Homo sapiens: one gene and its partners. The protein of the gene in region 1 purifies or fractionates together with the protein of each later gene. This does not show direct contact. Each region holds a gene or a part of one and is shown in the gene's direction. Other genes may lie near its edges.

The links.
Region 2: the proteins of SMARCA1 (region 1) and C1orf174 purify together in Homo sapiens (co-immunoprecipitation; one large-scale study listed by IntAct). This does not show direct contact.
Region 3: the proteins of SMARCA1 (region 1) and PRDM2 purify together in Homo sapiens (affinity purification with mass spectrometry; one large-scale study listed by BioGRID and IntAct). This does not show direct contact.
Region 4: the proteins of SMARCA1 (region 1) and E2F3 purify together in Homo sapiens (pull-down; one large-scale study listed by IntAct). This does not show direct contact.
Region 5: the proteins of SMARCA1 (region 1) and LIN9 purify together in Homo sapiens (affinity purification with mass spectrometry, with the first as the bait; one large-scale study listed by BioGRID). This does not show direct contact.
Region 6: the proteins of SMARCA1 (region 1) and TCF7L2 purify together in Homo sapiens (pull-down; one large-scale study listed by IntAct). This does not show direct contact.

The regions. Positions count from the first base shown.
Region 1 is NC_000023.11:129,467,826-129,471,586, reverse strand, and holds part of SMARCA1 (SWI/SNF-related matrix-associated actin-dependent regulator of chromatin subfamily A member 1), read left to right. Parts: intron 1-260; coding exon 261-383; intron 384-2,681; coding exon 2,682-2,814; intron 2,815-3,761.
Region 2 is NC_000001.11:3,890,273-3,894,033, reverse strand, and holds part of C1orf174 (UPF0688 protein C1orf174), read left to right. Parts: intron 1-1,037; coding exon 1,038-1,151; exon of another isoform or gene 1,152-1,285; coding exon of another isoform or gene 1,286-1,293; intron 1,294-2,254; coding exon of another isoform or gene 2,255-2,408; intron 2,409-2,976; coding exon 2,977-3,465; intron 3,466-3,761.
Region 3 is NC_000001.11:13,773,045-13,776,805, forward strand, and holds part of PRDM2 (PR domain zinc finger protein 2), read left to right. Parts: intron 1-33; coding exon 34-144; intron 145-3,761. UniProt on the Homo sapiens protein: S-adenosyl-L-methionine-dependent histone methyltransferase that specifically methylates 'Lys-9' of histone H3. May function as a DNA-binding transcription factor.
Region 4 is NC_000006.12:20,478,310-20,482,070, forward strand, and holds part of E2F3 (transcription factor E2F3), read left to right. Parts: intron 1-1,536; coding exon 1,537-1,648; intron 1,649-2,896; coding exon 2,897-3,116; intron 3,117-3,761.
Region 5 is NC_000001.11:226,267,657-226,271,417, reverse strand, and holds part of LIN9 (protein lin-9 homolog), read left to right. Parts: intron 1-3,327; coding exon 3,328-3,461; intron 3,462-3,761. UniProt on the Homo sapiens protein: Acts as a tumor suppressor. Inhibits DNA synthesis. Its ability to inhibit oncogenic transformation is mediated through its association with RB1. Plays a role in the expression of genes required for the G1/S transition.
Region 6 is NC_000010.11:113,142,118-113,145,878, forward strand, and holds part of TCF7L2 (transcription factor 7-like 2), read left to right. Parts: intron 1-1,805; coding exon 1,806-1,908; intron 1,909-3,761. UniProt on the Homo sapiens protein: Participates in the Wnt signaling pathway and modulates MYC expression by binding to its promoter in a sequence-specific manner. Acts as a repressor in the absence of CTNNB1, and as activator in its presence.

The DNA.
Region 1 (3,761 bases):
GTTCCAGGGTATAATCATATCTGAAATCTAATGTGGCATTTGCCAGTGAGTTTTAACTATGGAATATCATGTGGCACAAGAATGGTTTTTACTTCAATAGGATCATGGTAGCAGAAATGTGGAGAGGACCGTGTGTCATTCTGGCTATGATTTTATATTGTTTACTCTTGAAATAACTCTAAAGATTGATATGTGTATATACAGCCTTAGTAATTAATTTTTCTCATCAGTTTACTCTTAGTTTATCTCTTGATTTATAGGTTCCAAGGAATCCTGATATCCCAAATCCAGCTCTGGCTCAAAGAGAAGAGCAAAAAAAGATTGATGGAGCTGAACCTCTTACACCAGAAGAGACTGAAGAAAAGGAAAAACTTCTCACACAAGTAAAATATTTTCAATGGCTGTAATACTTACAGTCAATCAATAGAAAAAAAGAAAATATAGATCACACTTTTTATTGTATGGGCCTAGTATCCTAGTGTGACACACCAACAAAACTCAGGGCTATTTTGTAAACATGTTTAGACCAAATCTCCTTATTTTTAAAAATTGATCTTATAGAATATGCCCTTTTGGAAATAGTGGATAGTATGTATATGCAAAATATAAGTGTCAAGTATTAGCAATTTGACATACATTTTGCCAATTATAATAAGGTCAGTGAATCCACATTTGAATTCTGATAGACAGTAGTTATTAACATATTCTTTTTTGTTTTTTGAGACAGTCTCGCTCTGTCACCCAGGCCGGAGTGCAGTGGTGCGATCTGAGCTCACTGTATCCTCCACCTCCCAGGTTCAAGTGATTCTCCTGCCCAAGCCTCCCGAGTAGCTGGGATTACAGGCACCCACCACCGTGCCTGGCTAATTTTTGTGTTTTTAGTAGAGATGGGGTTTTGCCATGTTGGCCAGGCTGGTCTCAAACTCCTGACCTCAAGTGATCCACCCACCTCGGCCTCCCAAAGTGCAACTGATACTACAGGTGTGAGTCACCGTGCCAAGCCTGTTATTAACATATTCTTGAAAATTTAAATTTCTTTTGTTTATAGATGTGAATTGTCTCCTGAAGTTATATTCTACTAATTTTTTATTAATGGAATAATTTCATAATTTTCAAAATTCTTTTTATCTTTTTTTATAATTTTCATACAATGATGAGAGATTTCTGAAGCTTTTATTATTATTATTATTATTTAAGGTGATCATTGTATAACAATTATTAAATTAGGAAGGTTTCCATTTGAACAAAATATTAATGCTTTTAAGTCATTATTGCTATCATGAGTTTTACGAGTGTTCTACTTCTAAAATAAACTATAGAAGATAAAAATTTCAGCATAGAAGGCTTGCAAAATAAACAAAATGTGTACCGTAGGACATTACTTTAGTATAGAGGGTTGCCAGCAAGATTTATTTATTCAACAAATTTTGAACAATGTGCGATGCATAGTAGTAGGTAATTCTCCACGTTAATTATTGAAAGATAGTTTTTATATTTGTATATTATTTATTATATAGGTTTTTTTTGCTATAACGTAATTTTATTGTATGGATTTTCACAAATTACATTCATAAGTTTTTGAGCCAAATGCCTGGAAGTAATAAAGTTTAGTTTGAAAATATAATGGCAGATGGCTGAATATTAGAACTTACCACAGAATAAAATAAAACATTTAAATATTCATGTTCTATTTTCAAAATGTATTTCCTGAATGTAAAAGTAAAGTTATGGCTTTAGAATGCTACATGACTTGGAGTATATTGTGAATGTACGGTATAACATGAATATACAGTCTCAACTGAGATAATATTTTAGTTTGTAATTAGAAATATAATCAGTTTTCTGCTTCTCCTAGTATATGAATTCATTTTTGTCCTTCTCTGCTGCCTTAAATAATTAATCTTTTTCAAAAAACCATGGCAGTACGTAGGAACAAAATGTGGGGTCATCTGAAATCTTTATCAACTAAAAGCCAGGGATAGAGTTTTGCAGTGTCTGGAGTATCACATTTATGTGAGTTGGGGCTCGAGGAGTGGAAGACAAATTCTTGGTCTTGTGACTTCACAGACATGCTAATAATGCCAAGGGAATTTAAAACACTGGCTAAAGTGTTTTATGTTTTAGTAAAGAAATTGAGTGGCTCCAATAACGTTCTGCTTGTAGAAGTTCTATTTATGAACATAATTTAGAACAGAAATTATTTATTCACACTAGTTCAGAATGATGTAAAGAGCTACAATTTTTTTTTGCATTATCTTTTGGTTATTCCTCAGTGTTCTTTTGATTTAGTGCATCCACATTTCTCTCTTTTAATTTATGTAGGAACAGATCTGTGAAAAAAATCATTGAAGTACTAGAATATCACGACTTCAGCATTTATATTAGCATTTTTATTTTCATGCATTTGTATTTTAATGTAGGCATCTATAAAATATGAAATTAAAAACTACAGATCTTCGAACTATGTATCAACATTCTCTTTGTAATAGAAAAGCAGTTATTTCTATAACAACTCTCACTCAACTTTTGATTCCAACATAAAATATGTGCAATTTTATAAGGAGAAACATTTTAAGTCTTTTAAAGTGTTTTTTAATGTATCATTGTATAGAAGTAAATAGGGCAATAAATGGATTTATTAATTTAACCTCTATTGATAATGCTTAACTTTTTGTTCACAGGGTTTCACAAACTGGACTAAACGAGATTTTAACCAGTTTATTAAAGCTAATGAGAAATATGGAAGAGATGACATTGATAACATAGCTCGAGAGGTAGAGGGCAAATCCCCTGAGGAGGTCATGGAGTATTCAGGTTTGTATATAATTTGAAACATGGTGTTGTATTTTAACGTTATTCATTTATTTAGCATCAATTTAATTGTACCTTTGTTCAGAGATGTTTTAAACTTTTATGAATAAGACATAGATGAGAGTATAAACTATAATTGTATTTCTATGAAAAGGTTATAAGAAAGGTTATAAGATTTATCCTAACAAACTGACTGCTATTGTCTCTATCACCTAGCTAAAAGAGGCAAATAAAGCTCTGATAAAACAAGGGTGGCTCTTGGATAAGCATTGACAAAATTAGTTTCCCACCTTCCCACCTCTGGAATTTGGTCTTCTGGTTCAGTTCTGAGATTCACATTCAGTGGATTGAATTCGTGCCTTTCTTTCTAGGTCGTCCTTAAAGTAGAGAGTTCCTGTCAGGCCCATTTAGATGCTCAAACACCCTCAGAGTTCCACCCTATTCCAGAGAGTTCCTGTGGGTCCCATTAACTTGGGGCTAGCGGGCGTAGAGCTGAAAAGATTGCTTTAATCAATCTGTTAACTGGTCCTCAAATCCTCTCCCTCTCTTACTCACCTGTGTTGTTGAGCTCGACCAGAATCAGTTTAGCTGCTGAAGCATATGGATTTTTTTTACACTTACTGGTTTATTATAAAGGGTATTGTAAAGGATACAGATGAAGCGTGTAGGGCAAAGTATGGGCCAAGAGGGCGCAGCGCTTTGGTGCCCTCCCTGGGCGAAACCTCTTCGTGTTTAGCTATCCAGAAATCTTATTAAAAATAGGTAAATATGTCTAGCAAGTTTTCTATATGTAGTACATGGGACTTTTCTAACTTCCAAATAGGTTCAGCTCTTAAACTTATCATTTGAAACAAGATGTTTAGAATCTAGAGCATTTTTTGTCATTGAAACAATGGCAAAGTAGGTTTAAGTTTACAAAGTAGGTTTAAGTTTCTATGATAGCCCCTGCC
Region 2 (3,761 bases), on another chromosome or scaffold:
CTATAGTTTAGTGAAGAGTACCGTAATGTCACTAATTTCTTAATGTTGACAATGTCCTGTAGTTGTTTAACATTAGTGGAAGCTGAGTGAAGGCTACATGGCAACTCCCTGTACTATTTTATTATTATTATTTTTTCAGAGACACTGTCTCACTCTGTCACCCAGGTGGAGTGCAGTGGTGCAGTCATAGCTCACTACAGCCTCAGACTCCTGGGATCAAGTGATCCTCTCACCTCAGCCTCCCACATAGCTGGGACTACAGGTGCACACCACCACACCTGGCTAATTTTTAAAAAAATTTTTTAAAGATGGGCTTTCGCTGTATTGCCCAGGCTGGTCTTGAACTCCTGGGCTCGAGCGATCCTCCTACCTCAGCTTCCCAAGTAGCTGGGATTACAGGTGTGAGCTATCACACCAGTTTCTTTGTACTATTTTTTGCAACTTTCTGAATGCCGAAAATTATTCCTAAATAGTTATTTTAAATGTTATGTCTTTAATTAATTTCTTTCTTGTTATTAGAGGAGTTTGCTTTGCATTCAGGATAAAAGAGAGGTGGACCAGTTTGTTAATATTAAAATTTGTGAGACAGTCGCTAGCTGCATTCAGCTAATAGAATAGGAGTCTAATTTGAGGAAGAGAAACTTTGGTTTCCTCATGTTACCTTTTTTTAAAAACTTTGACAACGTATGAAAGTTGGAGAGCCTTCTAAGGAAGGGCATGTGCTGCTTATTCTAAACACTTTGAAGTTGACTTAATTTCCACTAAAGGACAAATGGTGGCTACTAGAAATATACAAGATAAGGGGGACAGATCGTCCCAAGCCTCCAAAATCGTGGAAATAGTAGATCCTGTATCCTAAATCCAGGCACAGTTTCATTTGGATTTACACATTCGGGCCACAGCTGTCTCCACAAAGATGATAAAATCCTGGGAGTGGGAGGGGCGGTCTTCGGGTGTTCTTTAGGTGGGAAATTCTCGTCTACATGTTCATGCTGCCTTCCTGAGAGCACTCTCTGAGTGGCTCTCAATCTCTCTAGCTCACAGGTGCAGTGCGGTCTTCAGCGCGCTTGAAAGCACGAAGTTGTTCGGCAGCCAGGTTGGCCTCTGCCCAGGAAGTTGCTGGTTCCACGTCTGCCAAGACAGCATGTCTGGTGAGCCCTGTTACCGTGGAGAACGCCAAGATCCTGACTCGAGGGTCCATTTTTATACAAAATTGCCACTCCAAGATGTGTTGCTTTAGAAAAATATCGACTGTTACTTATCTGCCAGAGGGGGACTATTGCAGATGAAAAGGTGACAGCACTGTAATTGCCTTCAGAGAAAGACACACTCTGCAGGCCAGGGCTGGCTCTCCTAGCACCCGCCCACCCGTGTGTGTGTCTAGACCCGGGCTCTGATCCTAGCACCCGCCCACCCGTGTGTGTGTCTAGACCCGGGCCCTGATCCTAGCACCCGCCCACCCGTGTGTGTGTCTAGACCCGGGCCCTGATCCTAGCACCCTCCCACCCGTGTGTGTGTCTAGACCCGGGCCCTGATCCTAGCACCCTCCCACCCGTGTGTGTGTCTAGACCCGGGCCCTGATCCTAGCACCCGCCCACCCGTGTGTGTGTCTAGACCCGGGCCCTGATCCTAGCACCCGCCCACCCGTGTGTGTGTCTAGACCCGGGCCCTGATCCTAGCACCCGCCCACCCGTGTGTGTGTCTAGACCCGGGCCCTGATCCTAGCACCCGCCCACCCGTGTGTGTGTCTAGACCCGGGCCCTGATCCTAGCACCCGCCCACCCGTGTGTGTGTCTAGACCCGGGCCCTGATCCTAGCACCCGCCCACCCGTGTGTGTGTCTAGACCCGGGCCCTGATCCTAGCACCCGCCCACCCGTGTGTGTGTCTAGACCCGGGCCCTGATCCTAGCACCCGCCCACCCGTGTGTGTGTCTAGACCCGGGCCCTGATCCTAGCACCCGCCCACCCGTGTGTGTGTCTAGACCCGGGCCCTGATCCTAGCACCCGCCCACCCGTGTGTGTGTCTAGACCCGGGCCCTGATCCTAGCACCCGCCCACCCGTGTGTGTGTCTAGACCCGGGCTCTGATCCTAGCACCCGCCCACCCGTGTGTGTGTCTAGACCCGGGCCCTGATCCTAGCACCCTCCCACCCGTGTGTGTGTCTAGACCCGGGCTCTGATCCTAGCACCTGCCCACCCGTGTGTGTGTCTAAACCAGGCTCTGAGGCCACTTGTGCTCATCGCTCTGCTCTTAGCGTGCTATGGAGTCATGCTGGCCCATTGCCGTGCAGCCTCACCGCCAGAGGCTTGAAGAGAAAGGCAGAGTGGGTGGGGAAAGGAATCTCATGCCGTCTGCCGTTCACCCTAGCCCAGCCATCGATTCCGAGGAGCGAGTTCCTGAACTTACCGGTGAAGTAGAGCCGCTTCACGGAGCCTACAGTTGAGGGGTTAGGACTTGGCCATATGCCAGCGTGTAGCACAGAGCTTTGCTCATGATGAGGTGCTTGGTAAAATTTTGTCGAAGTCAATTTCACAAATATTTCTTGAGCACCTACTGTGTGCCAGGCACTAATTGGTGAATAAAGCAAAGACCCCTGCCTTCACAGAGCTTATGCCCTAGCAGAAATGAATGAAAGCTGGATTCTTTTACTGTAATTGTATAATATATAAATATATGCTTCAGAATTCACCTGAGGAGCTGTAACGCCACTAGGGGAAACTGAAAGTGTAGGAGTGGTGTGGAGCTGTAACGCCACTAGGGAAAACTGAAAGTGTAGGAGTGGTGTGGGGTGTGTCTAGATTCAGTCTCGCTTGTATTTTGTCCCTTGGTGGCAAAACAGTGAAATGACGATCTGTGAAAGTTGTGGTCACAGCATCTTTATCATTTCCGATGTGAGAAGAAATACTAGCCTCTGGATTGAGGCCTGTTTTATTTGCTAGATATGTCTGGTTCCCCTTACATTTTTTTTCTTGACAGACTTCCTCATCCCACAAAGCCACAGACACGCGAACGTCCAAGAAGTTCAAATGTGACAAAGGACATCTTGTGAAGTCAGAATTACAGAAGCTTGTCCCTAAGAATGACAGCGCTTCTTTGCCAAAAGTGACACCTGAGACCCCTTGTGAAAATGAGTTTGCTGAAGGCAGTGCCTTGCTTCCAGGCAGCGAGGCTGGCGTTTCTGTGCAGCAGGGGGCTGCAAGTCTTCCTCTCGGTGGCTGCAGAGTTGTGAGTGACTCTCGCTTAGCAAAGACTAGAGATGGCCTGTCCGTGCCAAAACACAGTGCCGGGTCCGGAGCAGAAGAATCCAACAGCAGCTCCACTGTGCAGAAGCAGAATGAGCCAGGGCTACAGACAGAGGATGTGCAGAAGCCACCACTTCAGATGGACAACAGCGTCTTTCTAGATGACGACAGCAATCAGCCAATGCCCGTGAGCCGGTTCTTTGGAAACGTTGAGCTCATGCAGGTAAGAGCGGCGCCTTCCTCCTCCCGTGGGTACTCAGGCAGCAGCTGCACATTCAGGTCACACACTCCCCACTCAGTGCAGGTAAATAATGCCTCGACACAACATTAAACATAAACTAATCATTTTAACCCACGAGGAGAAAATGAAACCGTTGGCTAATTGGGGGCTCTCCCTGCATCTCCCGAGCTGAGAATCACTGCTCTCGGGAAAGGTGTGTTTCCATGAAATCAGGTTTGTGGTTTTTTTGAACATCCACCCCGCGCTTGCTGTTAATTTCTTTTGTTTTGAACCCAGCA
Region 3 (3,761 bases), on another chromosome or scaffold:
TGAATGAATAAATTAAAAAAAATTGTGTTTCAGGGAAGAAAAAATCCCAGGAAAATAAAAACAAAGGAAACAAAATCCAAGACATACAACTGAAGACAAGTGAGCCAGATTTCACCTCTGCAAATATGAGAGATTCTGCAGAAGGTAAGCTTGTGATATTGGCTTGGTCTGAATTGGGTGTGTATGTACCCAGTGAATTTAACTTTGTATCTCTTTATATTGTCCTTCTGAGAATCATTTAGGATCTTTACGAGGTTAAACAGCAAAAAAGCTGCCTAAATTTAATGTGGTAAGCTGAGCCTTCTATATGCTACCTTCCCTTCAAACAATTGTGAAAGACTTTTCTTCTTAAAAATGAACTTGTTCCTTTGTTAAAATAAAATGAGACCAGGTGTGGTGGCTCACACCTGTAATCCCAGCACTTTGGGAGGCTGAGCCAGAAGGATCTCTGGAGGCCAGGAGTTTGAGGCCAGCCCGGGCAACATAGTGAGACCCTGTTTCTACAAAAGAAAATAAGAAAATTCACTAAGATGATGGCATGTGCCTGTAGTTCTAGCTACTTGACAGGCTGAGGTGGGAGGATCACTGGTGCCCAGGAGTTAGAGGCTACATTGAGCTGTGATCCCCCCACTGTACTCCAGCCTGGGTGACAGGGCGAGACTGTCTCTAAAAAAATAAAAATAATGATAATAAAATGAAACATATGATTGCATTTAAAAATAGCATGAAGTTCAAAACCATCAAAAAATAGTGATAGCAAGGACATGAGGAGGCACCTGGGGTGCTCGCTGTTTTCTATTATTCATCTGTGGAATGGTCACATGGGTATATATATTTAGTGAAAATTTTATCTTGCTATATACTCAACTATTTGTACACTTTAATACATGTACGTTTTATACTTCAAATTAAGCATTTACTTACAATGTCAGAGACTTTGATTTTTGTATAACAGAACAAAAAGTATACAGAATGAAGTGTGTTTCTGTTTTTTGTTGGAATTTAAATTCTTATTTTGTCTCTTCGTGTTTGTCCCCTTAAAATTTTCTCCTTTATAGTCCCTCTGGTGATAATATTCTAGGCCTGCCACGACGTAAGAATCCAACCAAGAGGCATGGATTGAAAGTTAATCAGAAAGACAGCTTGCCCTCTGCTCATTGCAGTTGGGCCACCATATTGAGACTATTGATACAGAAGGGAAGGAGGTGTGTCTTAATTTGCCATGGGCAAATTTTTGCAGATTGCAGCTTACTTGAGTTGTTTATAGTGAGCCAAGTAGGCAAATTTCAGAAGACAGGTTTGTGACTCTTTTAAGAAATATTTGTAGAGGAAAATAACCAGAATATTTTGGATGCCTTTCATAACCATTTTTAAGCACTGTTTGTGATGATAACATTCATAAAAGATATAATTTTCTGTGAAACAAGAATAGTCAAGTTCATTTCCCAGAGTCTTAAGACTAAGTTCTGCCTCCTCATTGCAGGTGTGCCGAGAGTTTTTTTTGAACAACAAAAATTACTAAGGAACCTCACTACCTTTGGCGGTAGAATTAGAAAACAGATTCAGCAGTCACCTACTCCCCTTCAGTAATTCGAGACAATTATTTTTCTCCTGACACAACATCAGGTCCCATGAAAAATGACACTTGCTGGCCTGGCGCGGTGGCTCACGCCTGTAATCCCAGCACTTTGGGAGGCCGAGGCGGGTGGATCACAAGGTCAGGAGATCGAGACTATCCTGGCTAACATGGTGAAACCCCGTCTCTACTAAAAATACAAAAAAATTAGCCAGGCGTGGTGGTGGGCGCCTGTAGTCCGGGAGGCTGAGGCAGGAAAATGGTGTGAACCCAGGAGGCGGAGCTTGCAGTGAGCCGAGATCGTGCCACTGCACTCCAGCCTGGGCGACAGAGCGAGACTCCGTCTCAAAAAAAAAAAAAAAAGAAAAATGACACTTGCTCTTCACCCCCCAGTATTTGGCACAGCTGGTCAAAGTGGTGTCGTAGGCTTCCGCTGAATGTTCTGCGTTGTCCTCAGCAAATGGTCTATACCATGAGCAAACAGTTCAGACTCTTCTTTGTGCTCCCAAACCTCCCTTTATGTTCAAAACTCCAGAGACCACATAAAGTGCGTGGATCCACTCTGGCATGGGCCGTGCTTGTTAATGGAGCTGTGCAGACTTCGGTTTATGTTACTTTGGACAGTTTTATATCTGGGATTGTTTACCAGTCATGGGGAAAGACATTTTTTCCCCATCAAAAGAAGCCACAGATTTTGACTGAAAATAAAGTCTGTTAGGAAATTTCTGAGCCTTAGAGTTGGCGTTTTCTGTTGTCTCATTTCAACTCTTTTGGCAGTATTCGGGGTCTCTATTGAAAATATCTTTGAAAAGAGAGGTAGCTCCTAATTTGAAATATGTTACTACTGTCGAATGACTGGTTTCCCACTTTGTGGAAAGCTCATGGAATTTATGAAATTAGTCTAGGGGGAGAGAAGGCTGTTTCTGTTTGGAAACAGAAACCTCATTGCTAGTAAATGGAGTAGCAGATGGGAAACAGTAATTCCCGATATTCCTGGGAAACAGCAAGGAGGCTAGGACTGAATAAGTGAGCTTGTATGAGTAATACTTGGCATTGACCTCTTCCCCACTGTATCCACGCAGTCCCCATGTCCAGTAGCAGGCCTCTCAGATCGTGAGGGTCTGGCTGCTCTTTTCTGCCTCCACTGCCTCTTCCCCTTTCCTTCTTAGCACAGCAGCCAGCATCTCCATTCTCATTCTGCTCTGCCAGTCTTGCTCCTCGGCCTCCAGTGATGACCTTCCCCCATCCCTTCACCCACCCTGCAGCCGAATCTCCCAGATGGCAGTCTCCTGCTTTCAGATACCTTCAGTGGCTCCCCACTGTCCCCAGATAAGTCCACATTAATTTACAGTGTTCTCTATGTTTTGACTCTTTTCTGCTTGCTTTTCCTCTTCTGTCCTTAATTCTTGTATTCTTCAGGTTCTGTCTGCTTAGTCCTTTCTCTAAGAAGCCTTTCCTGATTAATCAAACCCATATGAGATGCTTCCGTACCACACTCACTTCCATAAACACAGCCATCAATGTTCTACAGTTTCGTTGCCTTCCTGCTTGTGTGTGGCTTGTATTAAAGTGAAGCTCTCTATGGGTAAGGATCGTGACAGTCTTGTTTACCTAGTACTGGCAGATAGTGGGTGCTAAGTCAGTATTTGCAAGTGATTGGGGGAACAGCCAGGTAATGTAGCCTGGAGAAGAAGTCAGAATAGCTCTGCCTCCTCCGTGGAACCTTTCTTAACTCTCCTAGTGCCTGCAGTAGAGGGGTCCGCTTCTGCAGTGCAGCAAGTGGGACTGTCGCGACAGCAGCATTGGGGACCATTCCTACTAGCACGAAACCGCGATTACAGCTTCCGTCTTTAAGAATCCCCTCTTGTCCCTGTGTTTTCTTCCAGTCTCTTCTCCATTTCTTTTTCTTTACAGGTAAACTTGAAAGAGTTGCTAATAGTCTCCCTGTCTCTCCATCTCCTTCCATTCTCTTAGGAACTCTGTTAGACATTTGTCCCCACTACTCCACTTGCTGTCACAATCACAAGACCTCTGCCTTGGCAGATGGAATGTTCCATTCTCAGTCCTCATTTTATCCAACCCATCAGGAGTTCTGGACACAGCTGATCATGCCCTCCTTGAAGCAGTTTCTTTACTTTGCCAAAGGACCACCACTCTCTTGGTTCTCTGGATACCTCACTGGCCT
Region 4 (3,761 bases), on another chromosome or scaffold:
TTTTACCCTGTTTTGTACTAAGTCTTCGAAATTCAGTGTGTATTTTACAATTATAGCACATGTCAGTTTGGATGAGCTAGTAACCAGTGGCTATCGTAGTAGACGGTGCAGGGTTAGCTGGTAACTTTCCATAGAGGGGCTGAATATCTAGCTTCCGCTGATAAGTTATTACTTACGTTTTCACATCACGGGGAGTTGTTTTGAAATTGCAACTCTCGGCTGGGTACAGTGGCTCACGCCTGTAATCCCATCACTTTGGGAGGCCAAGGTGGGCAGATCACCAAAGATCAGGACTTCGAGACCAGCCTGGCCAACATGGCGAAACCCCGTCTCTACTAAAAATACAAAAATTAGCTGGGAGTGGTGGCGTGCACCTGCAGTCCCAGCTACTTGGGGAGGGCTGAGGCAGGAGAATCACTTGAACTCAGAGGCAGAGGTTGCAGTGAGCCAAGATCGCGCCACTCCACTCCAGCCTGGGCGACAGAGCAAGACTCTGTCTTAAAAAAAAGAAACTGCAAATCTCCTCATTAGAAGAATCTGCCTGAAAATGAGCCTAAATACATATTTTTGTGCTGAGTGTCCAGTTGGTGCCATTTATTTTCTAAAACACCTGTCATACCCATACAATTAGTACTTAACAACTGCTTAACCATCTATCTTTTCTCTTGGACTCGAAGCCCCTTATCTATCTTGCTTACTAAGCCCAATGCCTAGGTACCTAGAAGACGCTATGTGGATATTTTAAAATTTAATTGGAGTTAAATTAAAAACTTAGATAAGGGCTTCTCATTTGCTAGGCTTGATAAGAAAATGGAGAAAGTAATAGTGGTTGAAGCCCAAGATTGCATGTTTGCAGTATTTGTTTTCCCGATGAAGGGCCGTTTGTAGTCTGTGACTAGTTGTGTTACGATCCAATCACCCTTTCTCTCATTGAATATACAGTATATAGAGAGAGTGATTGAAAATCTACAGAAACCCAGGCTCTGTGCCAAGCACTGGGTATACAAAGATAAATGGGAAACAGTCCCTGCCTTAAAGGAAATGAGAAACAGATAAGTCTTACAGTAATACCGAATAAGTGTCATGATACAAATAAACACAGAGTGTTTGGGGAGCACAAGGAAGGGGGTCCAACCCAGGTCGGAGAATGGGAGATGGGCAGGAAAGACTCACTGTGGAAAGGGAATTTAAGCCCCACGGCGCCTGTGATATTCTTAGCATCCAACCCCATGCCAGGCACATGATGTGTTGAATCAATGAACAAAGTGACTCCTGAACCTAATGCTGAAGGATCGCTGTGTTTGTCCATCTGGGTGTGGACGGATGATCACGGCAGGTGAAGAGAGTGTGCATGACAACCCAGCCTACAACGCTAGAATCCTGGCTCTAGGGAATGACAAGATGCTGAGTGGGGTGGAGCAGAGGGGTGAGAGCTGGCATGAGCCTGCAGCATTTGGCAGGCCAGCCCACAAACTGCCTCCCTTCTTGTTCTTGTCCATATGACCGGTGACGAGAGATCGCACTTTCTTATTACAGGCAAAGCGAAGGCTGGAGCTAGGAGAAAGCGGTCATCAGTACCTCTCAGATGGTTTAAAAACCCCCAAGGGCAAAGGAAGAGCTGCACTACGAAGTCCAGATAGTCCAAAAAGTAAGGATCTTTTCATCTCTTTCCTTATTCTCCTTGGTATGGCATTTCCAAGTTTCAAAGCTTATGGCCGGAAGGATGCCAAGGTGTGAATAATTCTGGCATGTTTTGTTCTTTTTCATTTCTTTCTGTGCTTATCCAAAAAAATAAATACAATGTCAGCAGACAACCAGTGAAAGGCTACAGAGTCACACTGGTACCATAAGGGAAGACTTCTTTTAACTGTATGTAGTTTCATTTTTCAACTCGGAATACGAACTTTTGGCACCATTCTATATCAAATTTAATTTTAACTTCCCTTAATGGACATTGCTTCAGAGTCTGAGGCAAACTGGATGTCCACGAACTATGCCAGAGTCACCAGTGTCTGTGCCGACCTCAATCTCCAGCTCAGCATATGATAGCGTAAGAATTGATTGAGCCCGATAAATTGCAGGCTGTTTCTCTTTCTATCAAATACTATTACCGTTTCTTGTGGGAGAGAGAGAAACGTAGGTTAGAAATAGCCAACTAGTCCCATTATGTATGTGTTTGCATTTAACATAAGGGCTAAATTAGACTTTGTTCTCTCTCTTCCTTTAGTTCATGCATTAGGCAATCCACAAATTGTGTGACACTAAATTAAAACCTTGACCTGTGCACCTATGGGGGAACAAGTACAATATTAAGTAAGGAAATTTCCTTTAAGAGAGATGGGGAGATTTGGCAGAAGACTTTTCCAGGTAATTATTTATCAAAATGAAGCATTGTTTGGAAAATTGGTGAACAGGTGATACACGCACACACAGATACCAGAGCCTGAAAGGCCATTTGAGATGGGTCTGTTTAAGACCTTGTCCTGCAGTGCTAGTGAGACTCATAGCCTGGCTCCATCACCGTAGGCCTCGTGTGTGCTGGTCCCCTGAGGCCACAGCACTCTTTCATTCATTTGACAGATATTTTTTAGCGCCCGCTATATGTAAATTCTTCATTGGAGCCAGGGAATGGTGTAAGTCAAGGTAGAAACTCTTGAGAAATTCAAGGTGAAATGCTTTAATCAAACCCTGGAATTTTTACCTTCCCTTCCTGCTCTAATAAAAAACTTTCATAGCTTTCTATGACTTGCCAACACCAACAGCAACGACAGCCTTGCTTCAGATACTAATACTTTGGCTGCAGTGGGAAAGAGAGCTTGCTTGACTGCAAAGACACCCTTCATTTCTTTACCTTTCCCCCTATCCCCCACCCGCTCGGTTTTTGTTTTTCTTTAAGCTCCAAAATCTCCCTCAGAAAAAACGCGGTATGATACGTCTCTTGGTCTGCTCACCAAGAAGTTCATTCAGCTCCTGAGCCAGTCACCCGATGGGGTATTGGATTTGAACAAGGCAGCAGAAGTGCTAAAAGTGCAAAAGAGAAGGATTTATGATATCACCAACGTTCTGGAAGGCATCCACCTCATTAAGAAGAAGTCTAAAAACAACGTCCAATGGATGTGAGTAGGAGTCCTCCCCATGCCCCGGCTCTGAGGGGGTCGTTTCAAACTGCCTGGTTTCTTAGTTCCTCACTTTCACATCCACGCCCACACGTTCTTTTCTTTTCTCTCCTACTGTTTTCTTCTCTCTCATTCTCTCTTCCCTCCTCAGCTTCTAAGCCAGAAGTTTGAAGTCTCTTTACAAAGAGACTTTGTTTAGATACTGTCAGAGATAAAAGGATTTATATTTGATGAGCATCCAGCAACGGCATCCTTAAAGAGGTCCCTGCAGTTGGAAAGTGGACTGCTGTTCATCTGTTACATAGATGTCTGTGTGCACCCACGTGTGTATCTGACAGATGTGTACACGTCTTCAGCTTGTTTCTAATAAGAATCTGGAAATGATGGCTTATGGGTTATCTATGTGTATACGTACAACTGCATAGTTACAGAATATCTTTATCCATGGTTCTAATAGCAGATTAACTCACTTTCTGGGTAAATTAAGGCAAGACTTAAATGCCTCCATTTCGTCTGTAGAGCAGGGATGGTAGCATGATACTTATACAGCCACACGTATGATTACATATGTAATATATTTTGTGAATTTTAGAGCATCTAAATAGCCACTATAAGCACAGTATTGAATTATTAAAGCATTTTGGA
Region 5 (3,761 bases), on another chromosome or scaffold:
CATATTCCTTCTTTAGAAAATATTTTAGTAAACAAAGAGTAGTAGATTTTTCCTCAAAAACAAGAGCCAAAAGAATTAAAAAGTCACTCTATTAGGGATTTTGCTGTAGGAACAAAGAATCTGGCAGGTAAAAAGTGACTGGACTTTGTGATTGTCAGATACAGAGTTAGAAGCACAAGAGTTTTGACAGATGCACTGCGTATTCAAAGTAATGGAAAATTTGAATAGTAGAGAAGTTTGGAAAAATGTCTAGACATGATACTTTAGCTACAGTATATAGAAAGTTGTTTGAGACGTCATACTTAAGCCACAGTTGTTTACCCCTGGAGAAATGAGAGTGTTAAAAAAGATATTAAAATCATTGATTTGTTAAGAAATTATAAGAATCTGAACTATCCTAAAAGTAATCTTTGTAAAATGAACGATAATTCCAGGTTATCTGGGATTTTCTGTAGGTTATCTAAAGGAGTAAATGGAAAAGAAATAAAAAAGATTTTATTTATCAAATAAATTTTTCAAAAAACAGAAATGAAGAGAATAGGAAAAAAGTACATACATACACAAACCTTTTTTTTTTTTTTTTTTTTTTTTTTGAGACAGAGTCTTGCTCTGTCTTCCAGGCTGGAGTGCAGTGGTACTATCCTGGCTCACTGCAGTCTCTACCTCTCTACCTCTTGGGCTCAAGCAATCCTCCCACCTCAGCCTCCAGGGACTACAGGCACATGCCACCATGCCTGGCTAATTTTTTTGTATGTTTTTGTAGAGATGGGGTTTCACCATGTTGCACAGACTGGTCTTGAACTCCTGAGCTCCAGCGATCCACCCTCTTGGGCCTCCCAAAGTGAGCCACCACGCCCAGCCTACTTTAATTCTTTGAACATATTTATAACAGCTGCTTTTTTAAGTCTTTGCTAAATATCTCTCTCAATTTCTTACTGTACTTTTCTTAAGAGCCATGCTTTCCTACTTCTTTACATGTCTAGTAATTTTTGGTGGAAAACTTGATATTTCAGATAATATATTGTAGCAACTATGTATTCTAATTTTTTGGAGAGTTGTTGGATTTGCTTTAATAACTTGGCTATGCAAATACTGATGTCTCTGCTTCATTTTTTATTCTTATATTTATTATTATTATTAAACTTGATTTCCAAAGAGTTACCCCTGTGTCTGCATATAATTTAGTGGTCAGGGCTGGGTGCGGTGGCTCACGCCTGTAATCCCAACACTTTGGGAGTCTGAGGCGGGCGGATCACCTGATGTCAGGAGTTTGTGACCAGCCTGGCCAGCATGTGACACCCTGTCTCTACTAAAAATACAAAAAAAAATTAGCCGGGTGTGGTGGCGGGCACTTGTAATCCCAGCTACTCAGGAGGCTGAGGCAGGAGAATCACTTGAACCCGGGAGGTGGAGGTTGCAGTGAGCGAGATCGTGCCACTGCATTCCATCCTGGGCAACGGAGCGAGACTCCCATCTCAAAATAATAATAATAATTTAGTGGTCACCTAATGATTTGAACAGAGGTTATGCTCAAACATCTTGATCGGGAAAAGCCTCACATTGATTTATATGTGAGTTGGGGAATGTAAATACAAAGTTGCTGCTAGTTTTCAAGTCATCCTTAGCTTTTACTTTTTGCCAGACTATTGGATCTTCCCCCTCCATTTGCATAGTAACCCAGTTAGCCAGGGATGGTAGAGAGCTTATTTCCGCCCTTTTATGGCTCTCTAGTTTCCATGATCTCCCTGTTAAATTTCTGGCTGTCTTTCATGACCAGTCAAAATTCTGGCTGGTTTTCGTGACCAACCCTGAACTAATAAAACCATTCTCATCGACCACGTTGGTGGTAGTAGTGGGTGTGTGAATAACCTCGTGCAAAGAGGCCACTGAGTCCCCCTGCCCTAACCTGAAGCTCTAGCACTTCTTCAACAATAAACGTTTCTTGTTTTCTACATTTGATCCATTTCCAGTACCCTGGAATGGTTGTTTTTCACAATCTCATTCAGGTTTGTACTTGTTTTTTGTGGAGAGGAATTACCAGCCTCTTCATGCCACCATAACTAGTAGTCCTTTTCTATGCTTATATTTGTTTACTCAGCTTCATTATTTACATCTTCTGTATCCATGTTTACTTTTCCCTTAAAGGATCTGTCAGAAACTGAGAGAGATTTTAGTCCTCTACAGTTGTGTTTTTATCAATTGATCCTTTTATTTTAAACAGTCTTGCATTGTGTATTTCTGTGTTCTATTAAAATGTTGTGTATTATACTTTTTGGTTAGTATAAAATGTATTACTTTGCCCAGTTTACAGCCATCAATGCTGTTGTTCTTAAATTTTTTACTCATGCTGGATGTTTGTTTGGATTTCTCTGATGTTATTTTAGGCTGGACTTAAATAATAGTGACACAGTTCATCTGTGTCATCAGTTCCAAGACTACTAGTTTTGGTGATTCACTAGAAAGACTCAGAATACTCAGCACATGTACTCATGGGTAAGATTTGTTACAGTGAAGGACACAAAACAAAATTGGCAAAAGAATAAGGTGCTTGGGGCAAAGTCCAGAGGAAACCACGTGCAAGTTTTCAAAAGTCCTCTCCCAATAGAGTCATGCAAGACTTTTAATTCTCCCAGAAACAAGTTGTCACAATGCTTATAAGTGTTGTCTACCAGGGAAGCTCATTAGAGACTCAGTGACCAGAGTTCTACTGGGGGCTGAGTATGTAGGCATCTTTTGCCTAGTACATACTAAAATTCCAGTCTTCCAGAGGGAAAGCAGGTGTCCAGCATTAACCACATCGTTTGCACAATCTAGACACAGTAAAACCACCATTATTAATTAGGGAACAGTGGGAACACTTCCGAAATCCAAGTTCCCAGATACCAGACAAAGGCCAACCTTGCAAGGAGGTTTTCCTAAGTATAGCAGCATCAGGCCTGCAGTATTAACTTCTTTAATTATTTTCTACACAACATCTTTGTCTTTTTTTTTAAATTGAACTACTCCTGGTGCTTCACTCATGAGTATAATGACCAAAGTTCTTTTGTTGTTTTTTTTGCAGTTAAATGATTTAAAATATTTTTCTCTTAATTTGGGAGTAATATAATTTTATTCAAATATGAAATTAGGGATCATCATTTATAGTTTTTGTTTTTGTTTCAAAAATTCTTTGTTGTTTCTCTAAGCCAAAAATAAAGTGTGTGCTTGTTTTGAAACTCTAATAGACAAAATACTGTACTATGATTTAAATTACATGCTTGGAACAGTTTTATATTTGACTATTCTTTGTATCTCCCACACATCATAATGCCTTTGTTCTTTTCTCAGCACGATTACGTGGTGTTCATGATGGTTTGTTCACTGGACAAATAGATGCTGTGGATACTCTTAATGCTACTTATAGAGTAACTTTTGATAGGACAGGGCTTGGAACCCATACCATCCCTGACTATGAAGTTCTCGTAAGTAGTATTTCATAATACATTTGTGTTTTATGCCTGTTAAATGTGTTATATAGAGTTTTTTTAGAAATCGTATTTTATGATAGAATCAAGACTTTATCTCACAGAGGAAGAGATCCTTAGGGGACCCCAGCCCTATCTGCTAGACCCCTGGTTCGGATCTATACTTAAGTCTTCCATTTGCCAGGAACTAGCATTTCTCTGTTGGACCTTAACGACACAGCACTTTAGTATAACCAAACTGATGAGTCCTGACTAAATAACCTTGGAGAAGAAGCTACATAACATTTTCATTGCAGC
Region 6 (3,761 bases), on another chromosome or scaffold:
CCTGAGCCTCCCAAGTAGCTGGGACTACAGGCATGTGCCACCATACCCGGCTAATTTTTGTATTTTTAGGAGAGACAGGTTTTCACCATGCTGGCCAGGCTGGTCTCGAACTCCTGACCACCTCGGCCTCCCAAAGTGCTGGGATTACAGGCATGAGCCACCACACCCAGCCCAGCATCCCCTTTTTATCCCAGTTGTTCATTGACTGCTTTTTTCCCAAAGGGGAGAGGGAGGGAAGGTGGGGTTACTTGTAGCTCTCCTCCAACAAGATCTAAATCAGGCAGGCAGCCCCAGCAGCCTGGTGGGGTGGTCTTGGGAGAACAGGTAAGGTTAGTGTGTGTCTTTCAGGCTACCCAGTGTGTTGGTAGGATTTCCCCTTCCTAGCTCAGTAATTGGAAGGATGGGTTTAAAGTGGTGATTGCACATCACTTTGTTAGAGGGGATTGGTAGTGTTGGGGTAGGTAGGCTGCCTGGTTAGGCGGCCTTCACTGCCCCTGAACGAAGCCACACATGAGCTGGGTTTTACTGGTCTCTGAGCCCCTTTGTGCTGGTGCAGGACTGAGCCTGGCGCTTGGATGCCTGGTGGCCTCCTCCAGCCGGCCCCAGGCTCCACCAGTGAATGGCAGCGTCAACGTCTCATTTAAATAATGGTAGTACAGGGAATAGCTTTTAAATGGTTATCGTAAAACATATGATTAACGTCTGTGGACTGTTTACTTTTCCTCTGCGAACATTCTTTCAAGTGTGCAAATGGCTCGATGTAGGGTCCAAGCCCAGCTAATCTGTTTGGTTTTTGTAATAGAGAGAAAGCAATGTCTGCATGAAAATGTCACCCAGGGAGACTTAATTTACAGATTAAAAGCTTCCTGAATGAATTTTTTAAAAAATGAAGTCGTTTTCGTCCACGAACATGCAGCCCGTTCCCTCCATTACTCTGTTTTAATTCTGTGGTATTGTGCCTTTTGCCTCCCACTTCAATGGCATACATCAATTCCTCTCTGTCAGAGTGGACTACAGGATGTGCTCCTGTGGAACTGGCAGATGTGCGGTGGCACGTACTTGCAGAATCCGCTCATGTGTGCCTTGTGAAGCTCTTAGCCCCTGCGACGCACGCGGTGCCCATTCAGCAGGTGGGCTTAATCCCCACAGACGACTCTGTCCTCTAGCGGATGAAGTTCCAGAATGGAGTACACAAGCCTCCAACACCTCCTTGTCTGTTCAGCTCTGACTCTGCCTTAGATAAGATGCCAGATGGCATTTGATCAGTTTCTCCAGCTCATCCAAATAGAGGCAGAGACATTTTAGAGGAGTCACCATTTTTGAAAAAAGGCAAGGGTAGTAACTTTTCAAATGCCACAGCTCAAAAAGTGTGTTAGAAATCAGAGGAGTAGCTCTTGTGCAGGTAAGGCATGAAACTCCGCAGGGTGAAGGGCCAGAGTTGTAAGAGCAACAGGGATTACCATTGCTTCATTCTCCACCAGGTGCTGAGCCTTTTTGATGTTGTTTCTTTTAAACTTGAAACAATCACACCAGTCACATGAGGCACAAATACCCAAGATGGCATATCTTGAGTCTACTCAGTATACCAGTCCATTTAGAAGGAGATAAACTAATTTTTCAAACTGAGGCTGAGGGAAAATGAGATGAAACCTACCAACAACTCAGGATTTATAATCATGAATGAACCTTGTGCTAGGATTCCAGAAGAGATGCGTCTCTTCCTCCTTTCCCTGTTCCCATCCCCTAATGGATTGCTCTTTCCTTCTCTCCCTCCTTTGTACCTAAAATGCTGCTTCTTCCCTCAGGAATCCCACGGCCTCCGCACCCTCCAGATATATCCCCGTATTACCCACTATCGCCTGGCACCGTAGGACAAATCCCCCATCCGCTAGGATGGTTAGTACCACAGTAAGGAGTTCCATTTTTTAATTTCCTTTTTGTTTCTTACATGGGCATGTTTATTATTTATTCTGTGTGTGTGTCTGTGTGTGTGTGTGTGTGTGTGTGTGTGTGTGTGTGTATGTGTGTGTGTTAGAAGCCAGGGTTGGGGAGGGGGCTGCGGGAGGGCACAGAAAAGGTGTTGCTGAGGTGTCCTGTGGGAATACAGGCAAATCCACAGCCATTCAGGTGGCTTATGTTACTGGCACTTAGCATTCCGCGACCATGGTCCCCAGAGGCTCTGTGGACAGAGGTGCCCTGCAGTTCCTTTGGGAATTGCAGAAGACTACTGGAACTTCCACCCAATGAAGCTGGTCATGACCCTTCTGCTGTTGGCTGCCCAAACTGCAGTCATGTCATTGGGTTGAGGCTGTCGAGTCCTCCATTTTAGGTGTTACATATTTTGGGGCACAGAAGCAGGAACAAGAACGGCCTTGTTTTGAAATCCAGGGTTGGGATTAGGGCATGTTCTTGTATGATTCCAGGACCCCCCACCTCATCCTGAACATTACTCCCAAGGTTGACAACAACAGTGGAAAGTTTTGTCTGTTGAGAAGCTCCATGGGACTGAATCAGCATCTCTCTGAGAGTCTTTGCACGTTGAATGTTTTACCTAACTGTGAACGGTGGGAATGGGGCATTTGGAACCGTCACTGCAGCATGTGGGGCCTTCGTAAGCATCAATCCTAGCTCCTGGCAGTGCCCAGATTATTTGACTAACTTTTGCAACTTAAAAAAACTGTGTTTTAAATTCAGAGTAGAAAGGCCTTTGATGCATTAGCATACTGTGGCAGGTTGTGTGTATGTATATTTTTGCATGAGCATGTGTGTAATATGTGTTTCGTGATTGTTTCTGTGGATGTATTTCTCCTTACCAGTGATCTGTACTCTGAACAACACAGGACAATACATTGAATGCTAAAAGGAATAAATCCTGGTAAAACTCAGGTTTGAGTCTTAGGGAAGATGGCCTTTCAAAGCCTTAAGGAAGATAAAATTTTGGAGTGGCTTACCCCACAATTCTACCCGTATTTCTCTAGTTAGATAGATTCTATGCTGTTTTTTTTTTTTTTAATAAAAAACAGATTGCATTATGTAGTAGCTGTACCAAATACCAACCCTGGGTATAGTTTCTGTTTCTCTGTCTCTTCTTATTTTTATTGGGACGGTAGACATGAACATGAGCTTGTGACCCATTTCTTCTAAATAGATGGGGCCAACCCTCGAATAGTTCTCAGTGATCATTTGCCCCATTCGGCTGATGGGGAGATATTTGAAGGCTAGATAAAAAGGAATAGCCAACTCAGACAACCCTCTGTCAGAAAAAGTTGTGTGTCTTTCATGAGGATGCTATTTTGCATGTTGCTGTATTTTTTAATTATTGTAATGAGGTGTGATTGTCTATTGGTTACCCACAATTCTTCTTGGGGACTCTCCCCCCGGTAACTCTTGTCAACACTTGTTAATTTGACAAAAGGCTACAAATTAAGCTCTGTTAATTTAATGTTTTCTCACCGAGATCTAAATACCGAAAGAGGCCCAAAGCGCAACTGAAGTCCTTTGATTCACTGTACTTTATTTTGGTATAAATTTACATTCATTATTGTTTTCCTTTGGATGTGTAGCCCTCAATTAGTGTGATGGCTCCATTAAAGCAAGCGAGACTTCGCCTTTAATTATTACAACAAAACACCTAGTTTCAGCTTGGGGAGAGGGTCTCTATTGACATAAGCAGAGGTTATAAAATTTAATTAGCCATTCCTATCAGATTTATGGCATTCAAATTGTTCTGTGTTTCTTCCCTTTGATCCTTCCTGTACAAT